4 separate regions of the Homo sapiens genome follow, and all the other regions are linked to region 1. Evidence: fine-mapped expression QTL. A gene starts in region 1. Each other region holds a variant in brackets. All regions are shown on one strand. Distances are from middle to middle. Region 1 holds the start of MMUT (methylmalonyl-CoA mutase). Region 2 has its middle 89 kb from the start of MMUT. Region 3 has its middle 250 kb from the start of MMUT. Region 4 has its middle 330 kb from the start of MMUT.

What was found.
Region 2: its variant is fine-mapped to the expression of MMUT in whole blood (TOPMed, PIP above 0.99). The same link has a PIP of 0.9 or more in lung.
Region 3: its variant is fine-mapped to the expression of MMUT in whole blood (INTERVAL, PIP above 0.99). The same link has a PIP of 0.9 or more in breast, skeletal muscle, subcutaneous fat and transverse colon.
Region 4: its variant is fine-mapped to the expression of MMUT in blood mononuclear cells (TOPMed, PIP above 0.99). The same link has a PIP of 0.9 or more in whole blood.

The regions. Positions count from the first base shown.
Region 1 is chr6:49,461,185-49,466,769 of GRCh38, forward strand. It overlaps MMUT (methylmalonyl-CoA mutase), which reads right to left and starts at 2,069. Exons shown (of 13, transcript NM_000255.4): 1 at 1,919-2,069. CENPQ (centromere protein Q) reads left to right here and starts at 2,186. Exons shown (of 9, transcript NM_018132.4): 1 at 2,186-2,269. RefSeq lists enhancers at 1,252-2,152, 1,739-1,808, 2,153-3,052.
Region 2 is chr6:49,371,571-49,377,155 of GRCh38, forward strand. No RefSeq gene overlaps it. Among named protein-coding and RNA genes, the nearest start is that of MMUT, 89 kb to the right of the region's middle. The variant A/T (reference allele first, on the strand shown) is at 2,412.
Region 3 is chr6:49,209,010-49,214,594 of GRCh38, forward strand. No RefSeq gene overlaps it. Among named protein-coding and RNA genes, the nearest start is that of MMUT, 250 kb to the right of the region's middle. The variant G/T (reference allele first, on the strand shown) is at 2,589.
Region 4 is chr6:49,129,084-49,134,668 of GRCh38, forward strand. No RefSeq gene overlaps it. Among named protein-coding and RNA genes, the nearest start is that of MMUT, 330 kb to the right of the region's middle. The variant G/A (reference allele first, on the strand shown) is at 3,388.

The sequences.
Region 1 (5,585 bases):
TAGAATACAACAGGAGCAAGAGAGGGGCTTTTGGGGGTAATGGTCTTGATCTGATTGCCACTTACATAGATATATTCTGTTTGTGGAAATTCATCAAATTATACAGTTATGTTTTATGCAGTTTCTGTAAATATATGTATAAGTAAAAAGTTAAAAATGTGTTATGCATAGTTTCCCAAAAAAAGAGAAACAAACTCAAAAAGTAGTAAGTAAAAGACTCAAGACACGTAATTGTAAGTGCAACAGGTTCAACTATGTAAAAAGTACATAGAACAAAGTCTAAATGGAAACATAACAAAAAAGGCTGGGCATGGTGGTTCACGCCTGGAATCCCAGCACTTCAGGAGGCCGAGGCAGGTGGATCACCTGAGGTCAGGGGTTCAAGACCAGCCTGGCCAACACGGTGAAACCCAGTCTCTACTAAAAATACAAAAATTAGCTGGGCATGGTGGCGCACACCAGTAATCCCAGGTACTCAGGAGGCTGAGGCATGAGAATCACTTCAACCCGGGAAGCAGAGGTTGCAGTGAGCAGAGATCGTGCCACTGCACTCCAACCTGGGCAACAGAGAGAGACCCCGTCTCAAAACAAAACAAAAAAACCTTCCATTTTTTTAATACTAGCACGATTTTTATTCTTTAAATCCATGGGGTCCTTGTCATCCATCTTTTTGCAAGCCATCCACTACATTTACTAGCTTAAAAGGTGGATGAAAAAAATAATGAAGCAACAACTAAACTGTTTCAATAGTAATCCTGTAAAAGGTAATTTGAAAACCACCTGAGACTAAACTGTTGGCAGGAAATATCACACTCATTTCACGTGGGCTTTCCTAAATCTGAACAACTAATAGGAAAGAGCCCCGTTTAAGTGACTTCCTGAAAATCACATGTGAATTGGTGGAGGCTGGAAACAGACACCATTTTTAGATAAAAACACAACTACTGCGGATGGCAATACGACCTCTGAATTTTCTCAGAAGACCATCAAGAGAGGCCTCAAGCATTCAAAGAAGCAACATGCAAAGCAAATATGTTACTGACAACTAAAATGAGTTAAAGAGCAATGATTAATCCCACCCCCACACCTCAAAAACAAATCAGTGAGAAAAAGATTTCTTGAACCAATAAGTTTCAAGCTTTGGCTGCTGACGTATGATTGCACATTAATACTTCAAGAAGGTACTTTGATGTTCAACTAGTTGGGTTTGGAGATGGAAACATAGGGCATGAAAATTATATTTGATATTAGCATAAGTACATCATTAAACACAAAATTATATTGGCAGAAAATCATCAAGTGGTTTAAAACTTTACACACATACGTTATCCAGGGCTTCGAGCTTCCCTAAGACCACCTTCTTTCTAGATAAAACTGAGAACGAGTTAGTAATGTAAGCTTTTATGTCAATTTAGACCTGTCTTTTCTATTCTACCTCTCACTCTTAACACTGTTTACACTCTTAATCCTGTTTACACACAGAAAATCACTTTTATTCCCGAAAACTCTTAGAAAAACCCTGACAATAACATAACCCACAACCTAGAAGGGAGGCAGCCATGAAGCAGGCGCATCCCTTTGGAACCATACAAAAAGTGACCTCTGCCAACGGGAACAGTTCAGGGTGCTTAAGTGGCCAAAGAAGATACCGACATGGCCCCTAAAGTATTAAAAGCACCTTCTTTCCAGAAGTACCTCCGAATTGCCAGGGACTTCGCCCAAAACTAGAGGTTGGTCGAAGTGAAAATCTAAACCTAAGGAGAAGGCAGAGAGTGGGATCCCGTCACAGTAGGAAGGTAAAGAAGACAGAAGTAAAGGACAGAGCGGGAGAGAAAGGACAAAAGTTCAAAATACAGGGGTAGAGGAGGGACAGGAGCCAGAAGAATGGAGCGATCTGAAAGGTGTACGTCCTACTCACTGGTAGGCCTGTTTTGGACTCCGCTGTGGGAGAGGGCGGCTGCACTTCTGCGTCCCCCGCCTCACCTGTCAGACATCCACACAGCCAGGCCTCCCCGCCCTCACCAAGCCCACACAAACCGCGCCACCGCCAGCGTCAGCCGGACGACTCTGGGGGCGTAGGCCGACACCGCCCTCCCTCCAGCCAATCTAATAGCGCTCTCATGGGCGCATTCCTGATGACGTTTAGGGGTAGGGTTAGATGCCCGTTTCCGCTTTCTTCCCACCCACTTCCGGGTCTCCTCTGTTTACGAATGTTTGGGCGCGAATTACTCTAAGCGCGGCTCTCAGAAGGGTGCAAGAAGAATCAGTGGTGAGTCGTGATATCCTTAACCGGCTGGGTGGATCTAAAGTTCAGGGATGAGTTTTAAAGCCAACGCGTTTGTGGCAGACTCCGCAGTTTGCATTTGAGGATAGCGAGGGGGGATTGCTTACGGGGAAATGCCCGATGTCCTAAAAGATCTGCCCTTAGGATCCTGAGATTGAGATGTTTGATTAGGGGGGAGGGAGCAAAGCCATGAATACTTCCTATTTCTCCCGAATCATCCTCATGGCTCATCCTCATTGCTAAATTTCTCCCGCGGGCACTAGTGAAGTCAAGTGCAGCCTTGGACATTAGTGTCTGTGTTTCTCCAGGAGTCCTACTCACTCTTGTGCCCACATAGAGGTCTAAATTGAGGTAATTGAGTCCCATGAGTATCAACAAGCTGGTAAGAAAAACAAGACAACCTAGAATGCCTCCCTCTCTCCTAAAGCATATAGTCTGGCGGCAAACTACTGTACCAGCCTTATTTCTTTTCACTTCTCCTATACACATTAAAAGCCTCGCTGGATTATCCTGTCCCTGAACACGCCAGGTTTTTTGTGTTTTTTCCGAGCTTTCCTGCCGTCCGAGTTTTACTGTTTTCCCTTGGATGCTTCATTTTTCTACTTTTTGGCTAAATATTTCAAAATGTTATTAGAATAATACTTTTTCTATGAATAATGTACAAACATACTTCCGAGATATTGCGGGGTCGGTTCCAGACCAATAAAGCCTGTCACACGATTTTTTTGGTTTCCCAGTGCATATAACAGTTGTATTTACACTGTATTGTAACCTATTAAGTGTGCAATAGCATTATGTGTAAAAAAAAATTACATGCTGTAATTTTAAAATATTTTATTGCTAAAAAATGCTACTAATCATCTCAGCCTTCAGCAAGTCCTAATCTTTTTGCTGGTGGAGGGTCTTGCTTGATGTTGATGGCTGTTGACCAATCAGGGTGATGGTTGCTGAAGATTGGAGTTGCTGTGGCAGTTTCTTAAAATAACAAAATAATGAATTTTGTACAGCAGTTGACTCTTCCATTCACTAAAGATTTCTCTGTAGCATGTGATGCTGTTTGAAAGCATTTTACCCACTGTAGAACTTCTTTCAAAATTAGAGTAAATCCTCTTAACCCCTACCATTGCTTTAGCAACTAAGGTTTTGTGATATTCTGAATTCTTTGTTGATATTTCAAGAATATTCACAGCATCTTCACCAGGGGTAGATTCCATCTCAAGAACTTCGCTCATTCATAAGAAGCAACTTCTTTTCCACTAGTTTTATCATGAGATTGCAGCAATTCAGGTACATCTTCAGGCTCCACTATTTCTCTTGCTATTGCCACCAGATCTTTCATCACTTCCTCCACTGAAGTCTTGAACAAAGTCATGACCTTTACAAAGTCATCCATGAGGGTTGGAATCAACTTTTTCCAGACTCCTGTTAATGTTGATATTTTGACCTCCTCCCGTGAATCATGAATGTTCTTACTAGCATTTGGGATGGTGAATCATTTCCAGAAGTTTTCAATTTATTTTGCCCAGATCCATCAGAGGAATCACTGTCTAGGGCAGCTATAGCTTTACAAAATGTATTTCTTAAATAATATAACTTGAAAGTCAAAATTATTCTTTGATTCATGGGCTGCAGAATGGATGTTGTGTTAGCAGACATGAAAACAGCATTAATCTCCTTGTACATCTCTATCAGAGCTCTTGGGTGACCAAGTACGTGGTCATTGAGCAGTATTATTTTGAAAGGAATCTTTTTGTGAGCTGTAGGTCTCAAAGATGGGCTTAAAATACTCAGTAAACCGTGCTGTAAACAGATGTGCTGTCACTCATGCTTTGTTCTTCCATTTCCAGAGCACAGACAGAGTAGATTTAAAAGAATAAGAGCCCTAGGATATTTCAGAATGGTCAATGAGCATTGGCTTCAAGTCACCACCCATATTAGCCCCTACAAGAGAGTCAGCCTGTCTTTTGAAGCTTTGAAGCCAGGCAATGACTTCTTTCTAGATATGAAAGTCCTAGATAGCATCTTCCAATAGAAGGCTGTTTTGTCTTCATTGAAAATCTGTTGTTTAGTGTAGCCCCTTCATCAATTATCTTACCTAGAACTGGATAACTTGCTGCAGCTTCTGCATCAGCACTTGCTGCTTCACTTTGTACTTTCATGTTATGCAGATAGCTTACTTCCTTAAACCTCAGGAACCAAGCTCTGCTAGCTTCAGGCTCTTTTGCTACAGCTTTCTCACCTCTCTCAGCTTTCATAGAATTGAAGTGAGTTAAGACCTTGCCATGAATTCGTCTTTGGTTTAAGGGCGTGTTGTGGCTAGTTTGATCTTCAATCCCGGACCACTCAAACTTTCTCCCTATCAGTAATAAGGCTGTTTTTGCTTTCTTATCATTCATGTCTTCACTGGAATAGCACTTTAAATTTCCTTCAAGAACTTTTCCTTTGCATTCACAGCTTGGCTAACTGGTGTAGTTTCCAGCCTATCTTGGCTTTTGACATGCCTACCTCACCTTGCTTAAACATTTCTAGCTTTTAATTTAAAGTGAGAGAGGTGTGATTTTTGCTTTCACTTGAACACTTAGAGGCCATTGTAGGGTTATTAAATGGCCTAATTTCAATATCATTGTGTCTCAGGGAATAGGGAGGCCTAAGGAGAGGGAGAGAGGCAGGGAACAGCCAGTTGGTGGAGCAGTCAAAACACAACGCAACATTTACCTATTAAGTTCTCTGTCTGATATTGGCATGGTTCATGGTGCCCTAAAACAATTACAGAGTAACATCAATCACCATAACAGATATAATAATGAAAAGGTTTGAAATATTGTGAGAGTTATCAAAATATGACACAGAAATGTGAAGAGTGAGCACAATCTGTTGGAAAAATGGCATCAATATAGTTGTTCAGTGCAGGCTTGCCACAAACCTTTAGTTTGTAAGACAACAACAACAAAATACAGTGTCTGCGAGGCTCAATAAAGTGAAACACAATAAAAAGAGTTATGCCTGTACATTCTTACCCATAGCACAAACCAGTTTAAGACAGTCATTCGCTCACTTGCCTCTTTATAACATTTATAAATACACATAGTAATTATTTTCATATCTGTCTCTACCTGTGCACTATCACTAAGCTGTGGTTTCCCTTGGATCTAAGAATGGGACAAAATACCTATTCATTTTTATATGCACTGTGAGTAGCCCAGAAGTGATAGAAACAATGTCTTTTGTTTATTGGATTCTTACTATGTCTCAAATACCGTTCTAGGTGGTTTATATATTCTTTGTTACATCATTTTTGCTT
Region 2 (5,585 bases), 90 kb before region 1:
GAAAGAATTGGGGTGCAAAGCAGGAAAATGTATTCATTGAGATCAGTAACTTGTCCAGCTGTTCCTCATACTTATGGCTTTCAAATATGTCAATGATGTAGTTTGGACTAGGTTTGGGAACAATAGAGAGGGAATGTTCTAGGCTGGGAAAACATTCATGCATTGAAAGTAATTTTTTTCAAATAATCTACAAAACAGTCCTACTTTTCAATGTTTTGAATGAATTGAATTCAATCAATTCATAAGACAGAACACCGTCATTTGAAACATTATATTATGTTTCTACAAAACAAAAAGGAATAGAATTTTTAAAAACTCATCAGTTTCATGGAATTTTACTGGAAAGGTAATTAATCCATTTTCTTAGTTAATATGCTGGATCTGTACAAAGCATTATACAGAGTAAGTATTATTAAAGTGTTTGTTTCTTTTATTTCATTTTATTTTTGAGACCGAGTCTTGCTCTGTCGCCCAGGCCAGAGTGCAGTGGTGCAATCTCTGCTCACTGCAACCTCGGCCTCCTGGGTTCAAGCAATTCTCCTGCCTCAGGCTCCCAAGTAGCTAGGATTACAGGGGCACACCACCCTGCCCAGCTAATTTTTGTATTCTTTTAGTAGAGACAGGGTTTCACCATGTTGGCCAGGCTGGTCTCTAACTCCTGACCTAGTGATCCGCCCTCCTTGGCCTCCCAAAGTGCTGGGATTACAGGTGTGAGCTACCGCACCTGGCCATTTGTTTCATTATTGAACATGCAATTTAATTGAAGCATAATAGATCCCTTTAAATATGTATTATTTTTCCTCTATTATGTTGATTGACTGCTCTAGGAGTAAGAAAAAATTTACCACATTCTAAGATGTCAGCAAGTGAAATTCCAACCTCGCAATTCTTAACAAGGAATTTTCATATTTGTGGGTGTAGCAGCCTGATTCAGAGACAAAGCCCACCTTCTGTATATGAGATGTTGGATGGACAGCCAATTGTAATGATTTAAGGACAATGAACAATTGGGACCAGTTATCTTCTTCTTGAGACTCTTTACTTCTGTGAGTTCCAGCTGATGGACTCCAGCCCAGGTCTATATTGCATTTGGCTGTGGTGGTATTTGGATTCGAATTTGAATGTCTCCATACTAGGCAAGCCCTCTCTACTTTGGCACAATACCTACCACTTTTTATTTTTTGTATATCCTGATCCAAACAATGATACTACCTACTGAATTATAAAAGCAGTCAATTTTGTACAGAAGATGCTTCCGATTTCAGAGCCCTCTGTTAAAAGTTTAAAGATAATTATATTTAGTTTGTCAAGTGTGCAGAAAATGTACAAGCTATCCTTGTACATTTTAGCTAATAAAAAGTCTTCTTGTAAAGGAATAGAATTTGGTTATAATAGCTGTCAAATTTTTAAAATTTGTACTTTGAAGCTGTAATTCTAATTCCAGAAACTTTTTTCTAAAAAATTACTCATACAGATCCAAAAACTTTTGTGTGCAAGAATATGTTTGGCTGCATCACCCAAAATAAAAAAACCTTGTAAACAATCTAGATGTGCATTTATACAACAGTGGTTATAGAAATCATGATATAGTCAGTATATATGTAACAATATCTCACACATCACATATATACTATATATGAATTCATGTATCATACGTATTAACATTTATGAATTTATATATTCACATATCATATGTATATGAATGACATGTGTACATAAAATAGATGAATAATGACTATACATACTGGCAGGGAAAGTGTTCAAGTCATACTGTTAAGTAAAAAAGCAAGTTGCAAATTGCTGCATATAGTATGAAACCATTTTAGAGAAAATAAAGTGTGTGTGCACATGTATGAAATTTATGTCTTAATGCATAACAATGCAATAATAAGTATTTTTAGGAAATTGAGATAACGATTTTCCACTCACAATTATAAAATAATGTATATAATTATGCATTTTATTATATATTTTTAACATGTATAATTCTAAGCTGCTTGAATTATAATGAGAAAAATTTGTTAGATCACTTATAATACAGTCAAAGAAGGGGAAAAGTTCTCCATTAAAATAAAAACAATCCTTGAGAAAATACAATATAATTCATTAATAAGCAAGTATTTTAACATGCTTCTTAGGCCCTACTCTTTGTGCCCTTGGCCTAAAACACTCTCCATAAATTATTATGAATGCCTGTTTCCCCAAATAGTTATTATCTGCTAATTCTTCAGCTCTCTCTCAGATACTATATTCTTATGAAAGTCTTCCCTAACCAACCCAGTCATATGTTCTCACAGAAATCATATTGTTCCATAGCACATGTGATGGTTAATACTGAGTGTCAAATTGATGAGACTGAAGGATGCAAACTATTAATCCTGGGTGTGTCTGTGAGGGTGCTGCCAAAGGAG[A/T]TTAACATTTGAGTCAGTGGGCTGGGGAAGGCAGACCTACACTTAATCTGGATGGGCACCATCTAATCAACTGCCAGCGATTATAAAGCAGGCAGAAAATGTGAAAGCCTCCCAGCCTACATCTTTTTCCCATGCTGGATGCTTCCTACCCTTGAACATCAGACTCCAAGTTCTTCAGTTTTGGAACTTGGACTGGCTCTCCTTGCTCCTCAGCCTGCAGCAGGCCTATTGTGGGAACTTGTGATCGTGTGAGTTAATACTTAATAAACTCATTAAATACCTAAGAAACTCTTTTATTCCATTAATTCTGTCCTTCTGGAGAACTCTGACTAATACAGTACACATGATGGTTTATAATTATATACTTATATATTCATTTAGGAAATTATTTATTTTATATACAATTCCTAGACTAAGCTATGAGCTCCATGAGGTCAGATATCCTATCTGTTTTTCTCACTGTTAAATTACAGACACCTGAAACAGTGTCAGGTCATGATAGATACTCAAAATATATTTATTGAATGAAGAAATCATGAGTGAGTTTATTATTTAGTTGCATTTTTGAAAGTTCAGGATAAGTCTGTTTTTTTTTAAAAGTCACATACAATGGATAAGGGAAAAATAGGCCTTGAAAAAAAGGATGGAGAGGAAGCCTAACAATTTCAACTAGTTTACAATCTCACAGGCCTTGACAAGTTAACTCTTACAGCTAATTAAAATTACACCTGTGTATAGAGAGTAGGCATTCATTCATTTATTCATTCATTCAGTTTGTTCATTAATATTAATCTGCTAAGCTTTCATTCCCTTTATAAAGAGAAAGTCTTAGATTCAATGTGATGTTTCCTCTTTAATTCATAATCAGCTACCTAAGAATATTTTAAAAGGCCTCTTTTTTCAACTTTTAAAACCAAGCATTTCAGTTCTTATGAGCTTCATTCAAATTCTTGCCTTATTTTTTTCCCGCTAATAGCTCTACTCAATCCAAAGGTATTTTACTCAGTATATCTCAGATTTTATTTTCCCAGTTTCCTTCTTTTCATGCTGTTTATTTGAAGATTTTTTTAAAATTTTCAAACTGACTTTTTATTGCTATTTTTCTGGCCTCAGTTCTCTATTTGATGTTTTTAAAGAGTTGTGTCACTAGATAGTAGTTAAATACTTACCAATTTTTCTACTTAATCTCAGAAAACCTGCTGCCATTTTATAATAAATACAATACCATGCCACTCATGGAAGGTCAATGCATGAGTGTCGGGTAATGTCACTTGACTTCTTTGAGACAGGATCCCCCACTTACTCACACCACCCTCCCATTAAAAACTAACCGTACATCTGGAATGTTGGCCAGCTTTCCTTAATAGAGAGGATGTGGCCTAAGGGCCTTTATTCACAAAATTAGTTTGTGCCTGATGCTCTGAATTATGCTGTTTTAATAATTTGCTAGAAACATGATCAATAAGAAGTATTCATTTTCTGTTACCCTGTAGGTAAATTCTTTGCCAGTATTAATATTTTCTTTGACAGATTGCTGAACTCATAATGATGGTATTGCATACTTGCAAAGCTGTTTATGATCTGCAAAATAATTTCACATTTCACTGTGTCATAGCTTTTCACCTCTGATTCTAGTTAGATAATTCAATTATGTAAAATAGTCACTTGATGAGGGACTCCTGTTAAGCATTATACCAACACTTCAGACACTGTCAAAAGAAATATATGTAGTCTCTTCATTTGCAAATCATTGAAAGCTTGAAAGTGGTGTATTAGAAACAAAGACTGTTATAAAATTGTAGGATACCACAACTTCATGCAATTTAAAAAAACAGTGAGTTCCAACCATGATCAAAAAGGATGGATTTATATTTGTCTGGAAATTAAGAAAAATGGCTAAAGAAATGTCAATCTGACTGCCTTGCTTGTTGGCTGTAGCCCTTGCTATCTTGAATTATATTTGCGATTACTAAATATAATTCTTGCCTAATATCCTACTTCCACTTGAATATACTCTCTTGCTTGGACAATGATGTCAATTCTTAATATCTCTTTAATATTTCAATCCCAGCTTTCTCATTTGTCTCTTAATGCCCAGTGATGCATGATATGGCACAAGGTTGCAATACTGGTAATATTTTTTTCAGAAAATCATCCTTCCTTTATCATCTGTTGACACTTTTGTTGAGCCATTTAAATGTGCCCAGCATTCTGCTTGACTGCTAAGGTTATACAGTTGACACCCTTAAGGAGTTTACAGTAATTCAGTTTGCAATCTATACATAATTAATTAGACATTTTTCATCAATTAAAAACATACAAGAATTTTAAAAATATATAATATTCTTGCAGTCTTCATTGCATGAAAGAAACAAGTACTATCCCTTAAATTAGATATGCGTAACCTATGAAGATACCAGATTAGCCAGTTTACTAGGTGTGCAATAAATAAAATCCCAAAGTATCTATTCTTGATTGTGGAAAAAAGATCTGAAGATATAGAAAAGTAAAGTTTCTATGACAGAACACATCATAGACCAGCATTGGAAACACACTAAAAATAATATTAATCAATTGTCAGTCATAAGCTTGTCAGAAGCCTGACATAATTGTTCTTCCTCAGAGAGAAAAATGTGCAGAGACTTAGAGAAAAAAAATTCATTAGAATAATCTGTTCACCTTGATTGAAAGTTGATAAATGTATTTGGTAATTTCAAACAGATTGTGAATTTTAAAAATCTATGCTAGAACTCATTTTTATAAATTTGTAAAATTAGGAAGGAATTGAGGAGAAAACTCTTATCAAAAAATTGCAAATTGTGGCTTTATCCAGCCTGTCAATGTTAGACTGGATAAATTAAATGTAGTACATATACACTATGGAATACTATGCAGCCATAAAAAGGAACAAGATCATGCCCTTTGCAGGGACATGGATGGAGCTGGAACCCATTTTCCTCAGCAAACTAACTCAGGAACAGAAAACCAAATACCACATCTTCTCACTTATAAGTGGGAGATGAATAATGAGAACACATGGATACATTGAGGGGAGCAACACGCACTGGGGCCTGTGGAAGGGTGGAGCATTAAGAAGAATAGCTAATGGATGCTGGGCTTTATACCTAGGTGATGAGATGATCTGTGCAGCTAATCACAATGGCACATGTTTAC
Region 3 (5,585 bases), 250 kb before region 1:
AGCATTTTCTTTAGAAAATTTGTGATTGCCAATTCTTTTTCTGCCTCTTTGTGATATAAATCTTCTTAAAAGTCTCTGACCAGTTTTGTAACAAAGTCTTTCATAGGTCCTTGAGAGCCGTTCCTTTGAAATGTAATCATCAAGAGAGAGAGCCCCACTTTCTACCAGTTAGTGTGGGAGAATAGAAACCTGACTTAGATTAGCTCCTTGCTCATGGTTTTACAAGAACCTTCTGTCATGAAGATGAGAAAAAAAGTTTACTTTTCCTTTGGGTAAGGTCAGTTAGCAAACACAGATAGCCAGTGATCCTTTTCAGTCCCAGACACACGCACACACACACACACACACACACACACACACACTCCTCTTCTACCATGTCTTTCTGTGGAGTTGAGCTCAGACTGAGCTCTGGTGTTTCTATTCTATTGCAATAGCCTTGAAGAAAGTCTTCCTTACTTGTGTAACTTTGTCCACTGCAATTTTTGCTTTTGACACAGATATTTGAAGAGGCAGGGATTTATAAAAGTGCCTACCAGTGCCAAAAACACCTTTTATCCAAAATTAACAAAACAGAAATTGTTTCCCATTTTGCGGGGTTATTCTTCCTCTATCCTTGATTGAATAAACAATTTTGTCTGTTATTATTAATTTCCTTTCTTTGTAACTGAGGGAGGTAATTTATAAAATAGGTCCATGTTTAGTAGTATAAGAGGGGTATATGAATTTTGCTAATTCAGGGGGCATACCTATAGTTTGATCATGCCTAAAATTTTCTTAGTAATGTCTTTTCATTTTGTAGTATGTAAGTAGTTAAAGGCATGATAGATTTAATTTTTAATTTCATATACTACTCTTATGTGTCTTTGATTATTTTCAGCAAGACATGATATTCTCTATATTTTTAAAAACTGAGATACAGAAATTTTAAACATTAGGAGGCTCAATGAAATTGCATCATTAAAAATATTTATATTTTTAATAAAGAGCAAAAGAATGCTGCATTTGTTATTTTGTTTGCAAATATAGTAGAAAAGTACAACATACTAATTTATTTCAGAGAAAATATCTTACAATAGGATTTCAAGTTTGATGACTGAGTATTTAACTCCTCTCTACTGATATATGTATAGAAAAAACATAAATTTAAGAGTATAGCATAAGGTGTTAAATAAGATGTAACCTGAATATTGTGGGAACCATATGTGAAAAACATTTGACAAAAACTGGAAGAAGAGAAGACATAGGAAGAGTGGACATAACAAATAGACAAATTTGTTCAGTGTGAACACAGATGGTCAAATTAAAAGAAATGAGTTTAAGTTATAGGGAAACAGATGGCAGCTCAATCAAGGAAGAAGAAAGGAAGACGAAGAAATTTTTAACAGAATTGTCCAAAAATGGAAAAGGCAGTCTCGAATGTTAGCAAATTTTCATACATTTGCTAATGAATTTGACAGAGGTAAAGGTGTTCAAGCAAAGTCTGTATCGCTGCTTATGGAGAAGATTCAAACATTCTGGGTAAGAGAGTGTTAAACTTACGTTAGCCTTCTAACAACCTCTCAGGCAGTGTTACCCATGCTCATTTGTGCAATTGCCCTGAAACCTTTTCTCCCTGTCTTGGAGACAGTGATGAAAGATCTTTGGGCCTTGCGTTTCATCTGAGAAAGAAGAAATAGACTTGGGCAATTTAAATGGCAACAGATTTACCATCTCCCTTCTGTGCTCTCAACTGCATAATTTCATGTCTCTTGTGATATTTTCCATTCCTTTTCTAATTAAGGAGTGCCCTGAAAATGAATTAGTGCAGTACCCATAGTTTGGCAATTAATCTAAAGAATAATTTAGATTATTCTTTTTAAATAGAATAAGTAGATATCAATTCCCATATGAGCTGCAAGTGGCATGTGCTACCTTTAGAAATGACTATTGGTCATACATAAGCCCAGTATATTTGATTGTCAGGTTCACCCAAACCTGATCCTTAGACATGACCCACGTATCCTGTTGTGTTCCTCACTCATCACTCTCTATTGCAGTTCTCTTCCTTTCCTTTCCTTTCCTTTCTGTTCTTCTCTTTTCACCCTTTTACAAGTTCATACTTTATACCAAGAAAAATATATAAGAAACATATTTCTTCCTACATAATATTCCATTTCTGGCTCATTTTCTCCTTCTCTATTTATGCTTCTTCACAATTCCTTATAGCTTTTCCTATACTGGATCTTATTTCCTTTCTTTCTACTTTCTATTCTTGAACACTTACTACAACCTTTTAGATACTTAAGGCTAGAAAGTGAAATAAAACATGGCTTCATCTCCCAGGAAGATCACAGTGCCTTTTTATTTTCTCTGTCTCCCTTCTGTGAAGAAATAGTTCAAAAAGTTTAGGATGTGAAGAAGCAAGCCTACGAGTAGCAAGGTCTGGGCTGACATTCTAGTACAACAAGCAGTGATTAGCCCCATGCCTGCCCTATAAAATAATTACTGTTTTTCATGAGAATCATCATTGTGTCTTTCCTCAGAGAAGTAAGTTCCATGTTGAAAGTACAAGATAATACATTCTGTGCTTAATTAAAAAATTATTTTAG[G/T]GTATAGCAGATATGTTAACTTACTGCCTGCCCTGTTCTTAACTTTTAGATCTTTTTAAGATGACATTTATTTATTAAAATCACTAAGCTTCTTTTTCACTAACATGGTGGATAGCAGCTTTTAGCATGCATCAGCCACTTATAAACAGAAAAATGTGCAGAAAAATTAACTCTGAGAGTTTTACTTCAAGAAAGAAGACTGGAATTATTCACCAGAATAGCAAAGGACAACCAGACCTAGAGAGGAGAAGGTGGGCAAACAGTCCCTATGACAACATTTGGGTAACAGAAGTAAGTGAAACACCAGTATGTGAGAGGGGCAGTCAGTCTCTCTCTGTGAATCACCTATCCACTAAGAATCTGTGCAACCCAAGCAAAGGGAGAGCACCCTATTTCTCTCAAGCCCTGGAGCTAACTTGGGGAGAGGTGAAAAGATGGAAAGACCCTGGGGAAAGCTGCAGGCATTTTCCTAGACTCAGGAACAAGAGGAGGATTCCCTTTTTAATCTGGCCTCATACAACATCAGTCATTGTTTGGCGATCTGACAGTGGCAGCTAAGCAGGCATTTTAATTTCAAGCCAGAGACTACAGAAAGCACGTGTAGGCACAGGCCTCATGAACTCTATTAAACAATTCCACAATCAAAGCTACAAAGTAAGTAGCTAGCAAACCTGCAACAGGGACAAAGCCTCACATATCAATATTATCGTTGAATGTAAATGGCCTAAATGCTCCACTTAAAAGACAGAACGACAAATTAGATGCAAATATAGGACCTTTCCTTCTGTTGTTTTTGTGACCCATCTCACATGTAATGACACTCATAGGCTCAAAGTAAAGGGATGGAGAAAGACTGTCACTCAAATGGAAAGCCAAAAAGAGCAAGGGCTGCTATTCTTGTATCAGATAAAACAGACTTTAAACCAACAAAAGTGAAAAAGAACAAAGAAGGACATTACATAATAATAAATGATTCAATTCAACAAGGTTGAAATATCCTAAATTTACACACACCCAAAATTAAAGCACTTGGATTTTAAAAAATAATAGTAATTGCTTGTAGACCTGAGAAAAGACTTAGATATCCACACAATAGTAGTGGTGGATTTCAACATCCCACTGACAGCATTAGAGAGATCATCAAGGCAGAAAACTAACAGAAATTCTGGACTTAAATTTGACATTTGATTGGACCTAATAGACATGTAGAGAATACTCCACCCAACAACCACAAAATATACATTATTCTTATCTGCACGTGGAATGTACTCCAAGATTGGCCACATGATTGGTCATAAAGCCTTGATAAATTCAAAAAAATCAAAATCATACGAAGCATCTTCTTGGATCACAGTGAAATAAAAATAGAAATCAATACTAAAAGGAATTCTCAAAACCACAAAAATACATGGAAACTAAGCAACTTGCCCTTGAGTGGCTTTTGGGTAAGGAATGAAATTAAGGCAAAAAAAAAAAAATTTGAAACAAAAGAAAGCGGAGACATAACACACCAAAACCTCTAGGATACGGAAAAAGCAGTGTTACGTGGAAAGTTTATAGCACAAAACACTTATATCAACAAGATAGAAAAATCTCAAATTAACAACCTAACCTGAAGTTAATAGAACGAAAATAGAAAAGAAAGTGGAAAAAACAAAAACAACCCAATCTGAAAGCAAGAAGAAGAAAAAAATAACTAAAATCAGAGCAAAATAAAATGAATTTGAGATTAAAAAACATACCAAAACATACATAAATGAAATGAGAAGGTGGCTCTTTGAAATGATAAACAAAATTGACAGACCACTAAATAGATTGACAAAGAGAAAAAAAGAAGATCCAAATAAGCATAACCATAAATGATAAAGATGACATCACATCCCATCACACAGAAATACAAAAGATCCTCAGAGACTACTATGAACATATCCATGCACACAAACTAGAAGCTCTAGGGGAAACGGACAACTCCTAGAAACACACAACCTCCCAAGATTGAACCAGGAAGATATAGAAAGCCTGAACAGACTAATAACAAGTAATGAAATGGAATTAGTAATTAAAAAAACCTACCAACCAGAAAAGCCATTGACCAGATGATCATAGCCAAATTTTATTAGACATTAAAAAAAATAGAAAATCCAGCAGTGCAAAAAAATATAATTCATCAAAATCAAATGGGCTTTATTCCAGGGATGCAAAGATTGTTCAACATATGCAAATCAATAAATGTGACTCACCACATAAATATAATTAAAAACAAAACTCATATGATTATCTCAATACATGAGGAAAAAGCATTCAGTAAAACTCAAAATTCCTTCGTGATAAAAATCCTCAACAAACTGGGCATCAAAGGAACATAACCCAAAGTAATAAGAGCCATTTATGACAAAGCTATGGAAAACATTATACAGAACAAGCAAAAGTTGGGAACATTCCTTTTAAGAACTGGAACAATACAAGAATGTCCACTCTCACCACTCACATACAATGTAGTGCTGGAAGTCCTAGCCAGAGCAATCAGGCAAGAGAAAGAAACAAAAGGCATGCAAAGAGGAAAAGAAGAAGTCAAATGATCTCTCTTCTCTGATATTATTATATGCCTAGAAAATCCTGAAGATTCTGCCAGAAGCCTCCTAGACCTGGATAAATGACTTCAGCAATGTCTCAGTATGCAAAATCAACATACACAAAGAAATAGCATTTCTATACACCAATAACATTAACACTGAAAGCAAATCAAGAACACAACCTCATTAACAAGAGCCACAAAAGAAACTAAATAAATAAAATACCTAGGAATATGTCTAATCAAGGAGGTGAAAGATCTCTACAAAAAGAACTACAAAACACTGATGAAAGAAATTATAGACAATAAAAAAAAATGGAAAAACATTCCATACTCATGGATTGGAAGAATCAATATTGTTAAAATGGCTACACTGCCCAAAGCAATTTACAGATTCATCACTATTCCCATCAAATTATTTATGT
Region 4 (5,585 bases), 330 kb before region 1:
CTTCCACCATGATTGTGAGGAGTCCCAAGCCACATGGAACTGAGTCCATTAAACCTCTTTTTCTTTATAAATCACCCAGTCTTGCATAGGTCTTTATCAGCAGCATGAAAATGGACTAATACAGTAAACTGATACTGGTAGAGTGAGGTGCTGCTGTAAAGATACCTGAAAATGTGAGAGCAACTTTGTAACGGGGTAACAGGCAGAGGTTGAAAGAGTTCAGAGGGCTCAGAATAAGATAAGAAAATGTGGGAAAGTTTGGAACTGGCTAGAGACTTGTTGAATCACTTTGAACAAAATGCTGATAATGATATAGACAACGAAATCCAAGCTGAAGTGGTCTCAGATGGAGATGAGGAACTTTTTGGGGACTGGAGTAAAAGTGACTCTTGCTATGTTTCAGCAAAGACACTGGTGACATTTTGCCCTGCCCTAGAGATCTGTGGAAATTTGAAGTTAAGGGAGGGAGATGTTTTAGGGTATCTGGTGAACGAAATTTCTAAGCATCAAAGCATTTCAGAGGTAACTCAGGTGCTGTTAAAGGCATACTGTTTTAAAAGGAAAACAGAACATAAAAGTTCAGAAAATTTGCAACCTGATGATGCAGTAGAAAAGAAAAATCGATTTTCTTAGAAGGAATTCTGGCCAGCTGCAGAAATGTGCCTAAGTAACAGGGAACCAAATGTTCATCACCAAGACACTGAGGAAAATGTCTCCAGGGCATGTCAGAGATTTTCACAACAGCCCCTCTCATCACAGGTCCAGAGGCATAGAAGGAAAAAATTATTTCCTGGGCCAAGCCCAGGGTCCCCCTGCTGTGTACAGCATAGGGGCTTGGTGCCCTGTGTCCCAGCCACTCTGGCTAAAAGGGGCCAGCTTATAACTGGAGCCATGGTTTCAGAGGGTACAAGCTCCAAACCTTGCCAGCTTCCACATGGTGTTGAGCCTGCAAGTACACAGAAGTCAAGAATTGAGGTTTGAAAACCTCCTCCTAGATTTCAAAGGATGTATGGAAATGCCTGGATGTCCAGGCAGAAGTATGCTGCAGGGAAGGGGCCCTCATGGAGAATTTCAGCTAAGGCAGTGCAGCAGGGAAATGTGGAGTGGGCACCCCCACAGAGTCCCCACTGGGGCATTGCCCAGTGGAGTTGTGAGAAGAAGGCCACTATCCTCCAGACCCCAGAATGGTAGATCCACCAATAGCCTGCACCATGCACCTGAGAAAGCCATGGACACTCAACACCAGCTTGTGAAAGCAGACAGGAGGAAGACTGTACCCTGCAAAACCACAGGGGTGGGGCTGCCCAAGATCACAGAAACCCACCTCTTGCATCAGCATGAACTGGATTCAAGACCAGGAGTCAAAGCAGATCATTTAGGAGCTTTAAGATTTGACGGCCCAGCTGGATTTTAGACTTGCATGGGCCCTGTAGCCCCTTTGTTTTGGTCAATTTCTCCTATTTGGAACAACCGTATTTACCCAATGCCTGTACCCCATTGTATCTAGGAGGTAACTAACTTGCTTGTGATTTTATAGGCTCATAAGCAGAAGGGACTTGCCTTGTCTCAGATGAGACTCTGGACTGTGGACTTTTGGGTTAATGCTGAAATGAGTTAAGACTGTGGGGGACTGTTGGGAAGGCATGATTGGTTTTGAAATGTGAAATGAGATTTGGGAGCAGCTGAGGTGGAATGATATGGTTTGGCTCTGTCTCCACCCAAATTTCATCTTAATTTTAGCTCCCATAATTCCCATGTGCTGTGGGAGGGACCTGGTGGCACATAATTGAATTATGGCAGTGGTTTTCTCCATACTGTTCTTGTGGTAGTGAATAAGTCTCACAAGATCTGATGGTTTTATAAGGGGAAATCTCTTTCACTTTGCCATCATTCTCTCTTGCTACTGCCATGTAAGACATACCTTTCACCCTCCACCATGACTGTGAGGCCTCCCCAGCCACATGGAACTGTGAGTCCATTAAACCTCTTTTTCTTTATAAATTACCCAGGGTCAGGTATGTCTTTATCAGCAGCATGAAAATGGACTAATATAGTTGAGTAGTTATGACAGAAATCATATGACCTACAAAGCCTAAAATATTTACTACCTGACTCTTTAGAAAAAGTTTGCTGACTGTTTGATTCGTATATATCTATTTTGAAAAGATCACTGTATTAGAAATATAAAGAAATATCAATTGCTAGTGGAGAAGCAAGAGGTCACACATACAGACCAATTAGGAGACTGTGGTAGGTAAGGGATGATAAAGAACTGGATTAGGTTGGTAACAATAGATATGGAATTATGTGAAAAATAAGGTGACATCAACTGAACCTGGTGATGAAGTGCAAATGGAGAATAAGTGAAAATAAGGAGTTGAGGATGTTTTCTAGGTTTTTCTTTGGAAAAATGTAATAGATGGAGGTGATAAGATTAGTTTGGAGATGTCGGGTTTGAAGGGTCTGTGAAATATGCAAATAGAGATATTGAGACAGCAGTGGAATACATGGCCCTGCATTTCCAGGGATAGACAGATCTAGGCTGGGAGTCAAACATCAATGAAAATTAAATATATAAGAATAGCTGAAAATCCAGGAAAAGTGTGTAGAGGGAGAAATAGGCAAAAGACCAGAATAACTTCACACTCAATAAGATTTTATTAATCTCCATGTGTTTGCATGAAATGCATATTTTGATGGGGTCAAGTTCTCGATTAAATGCTACTTTAGAAATCTGAAAATCCAACTTTTCACATACCTTACACTTCACTTGTTCATTCTTATCCCACTATGTTACGGCATGACTGTTCACTGAAATAAACTCAAACTGCATTAAAATAGTTTATAATTAAGATCATCTTCATTTCAGTTACTCTAAATTAGTGTGAGTCAGTGTTTTACTCCTATAATTTATCTCACTAATTTTGAGAGTTTTACCCTGCAATATGATAGCTATTGTTTCTTTAATGCTCACTCTCTATTCAGGCCCCTATCAAAGCAGTATGCAATCTGGTCTCTGTATCCATGGACTTTGCATCTGTGAATTCAACAAAACATTGATTGAAAATATTTAGGGAGAAAAAAATGGATAGTTGCTTTGTACTGAACATGTACAGGATTTTTTTTATTATTTCCTAAACAATTCAGTACAACAATTATTTACACAGCATTTACATTGTATTAGGTATTGTAAATAATCTAGAGATGATTCATGGTGTATAGAAAGATGTGCATAGGTTATATGAAAGTACTACACCAATGTATATATAAGGGCCTGAATATCTGTGAGTTTTGATATCCATGGGAAGTCCTAGAACCAATCCCCTGTGGATATTGATGGATGGCTGTATATATGGCTGTCATTTTATCCTAAATGACAGCCATATG[G/A]GGAGACTGAGGCTTGGAGAACTTGTTGAGGTAAAACATTTTGTAAGTGGTAGATCTCTAGTACCCTACCTCCAGAATCTTTACTCTTAACCTATCAGATACACAACCTCACTTCATTCACTTCCTCTAAGTCCTGTGCCTTCAATGTATTTACACCTTTAAGTGTGTCTTACAGAATTATTATAATGAAATATATATTCATTGTTGTGTGACAGAAATCATACAAGGCTAAGAGTGAAAAATCCAAATTTCAGAATAGTTTGTGATACATGCTTTGAACAATGATTTAATATTCCTGAACTTGCTTTCTAATATGTTAGAATATGTTAAAAATATGACTGACCTATCTTAATTAGAGGGTGTTTGAGATTAGGCATATGAAAAACAGTATATATGTGGAGGCACTCTGAAAATATGTATCATTGTTAAAATATTTATGCAAAATTGGTATTTTTTATGGACCTATCTCTGACGCAGGAGAATCAAGGCCTGGGAAAGAAAGATTAATCCATTTATGCCTGAGGTGGCAATTTTTTGAATTTTTGCAATCAGACCTTGGTGATGACCTTGAGCAGTAGGATATAAATAACTTCCACATTCTTTGCGTTCCAATAATGGAACACTAGGCATATTAAGCAGCTGGCACGCAATTTATTTCTCTCTTCTTTCCAGAAGAAAACTTTGAAGAAAGAAAGAAAACAAGTGGCACAATCCAATCTTTTAAACATGCTGAAAACAGACCTTGTGTAATAAACTAATATTTTCTAGCATGATAGTTCTTATTGATATAATACTCTTAGCAAATGACCCTGGTCTAGGAGTGCTTATGATAATCAAACCAGGAATACGTGAATTTGTGGTACATGGTTCTCTGCAAAATGTCATGGAAGCCATGTAAATATATTAATGTATAAAATGGAGATATTTCATAATCTAGATCAGCAGTGGACAAGCATTTTCTGTAAAGAAGCAGGTGGTATTTTCAGTTTTGTAGGTCATCCAGTCTCTGTCACAAATATCAGTTCTGCCACTGTAGTGCCAAATATGTCATACATTATAAGGAAACAAACCAATGTGGCTGTGTTTGAATAAAACTTTATTTACAAAAAGAGGCAGTGGGCTGGATTTGGCTAAAATCCAAAAATTTGAGTTTTCTTGGATAAAGAAAATGTGGTACACATACACCATGAAATACTATGCAGCCATAAAAAGAATGAGTTCATGTCCTCTACAGCAACATGGATAGAGCTGGAGGGCATTATTATAAGTAAATTAACATAGGAACAGAAAATCAAATACCGCAGGTTCTCATTTATAAGTGGGAGTTAAATACTGAGTACACATGAACACAGAGAAGGAATAATAGACTCTGGGGTTTACTTGAGAGTGGAAGGTGAGAGGAAGGTAAGGATTACAAAGCTACCTATTGAGTACTATGCTTATTACCTGGGTGATGAAATAATCTGTACACTAAATCCCCAGGACATGCAATTTACCCATATAACAAACATGCACATGTATCCTCTTGAATGTAAAACAAAATTTGGAATAAAAAAATTTAAAAAGTTTAAATTTTTGTTTAAATTAAAGAAAACACAACAGGCCTACTGATACTAATAGTCACGTTCATGACAAGTATTGTATAGTGTATAAAGCCATTGATCAAATGAGTTTCATTTAAAGAGATTTATAATTTAATAATCTAATGGCAAATAAATGAAATCTTCTATTTTAGTAGAATACAGGATCTTTTACTAAATTATATTTTTAAGAGCTACAGCACCCTCTTGATAATGTCCTTTCAAGAACTGGTAGCAAATTAGAGAACATTTCACTATATCACATAATTCTAAATGAATGATCATATATAAATATGAGATTTCTGATTGAAGCAGATTCATTTAAAATATGTAGGTCCTATAAGATGCACTTGAGATTTAGTCATAAATCATAGATGATATCTATATCATGGAAACAAAATAATGCTAGCATGCATCTGAAATATTCTTTTAACAGACACTATTAACCTGTTATAATTTGTGGGAGAAATCATTCTCCTTCTCCAGTCTTCATCAGCAGGGAGGGAAGAATGAATCTAAAGTGCTATGGTCTGAGCATCCAGCATGATCATCTTTAGTTACTTATTCATAAAGCTTATTTACACAGTAATCATGGTTTTCTATTTAATAACTCCTAAA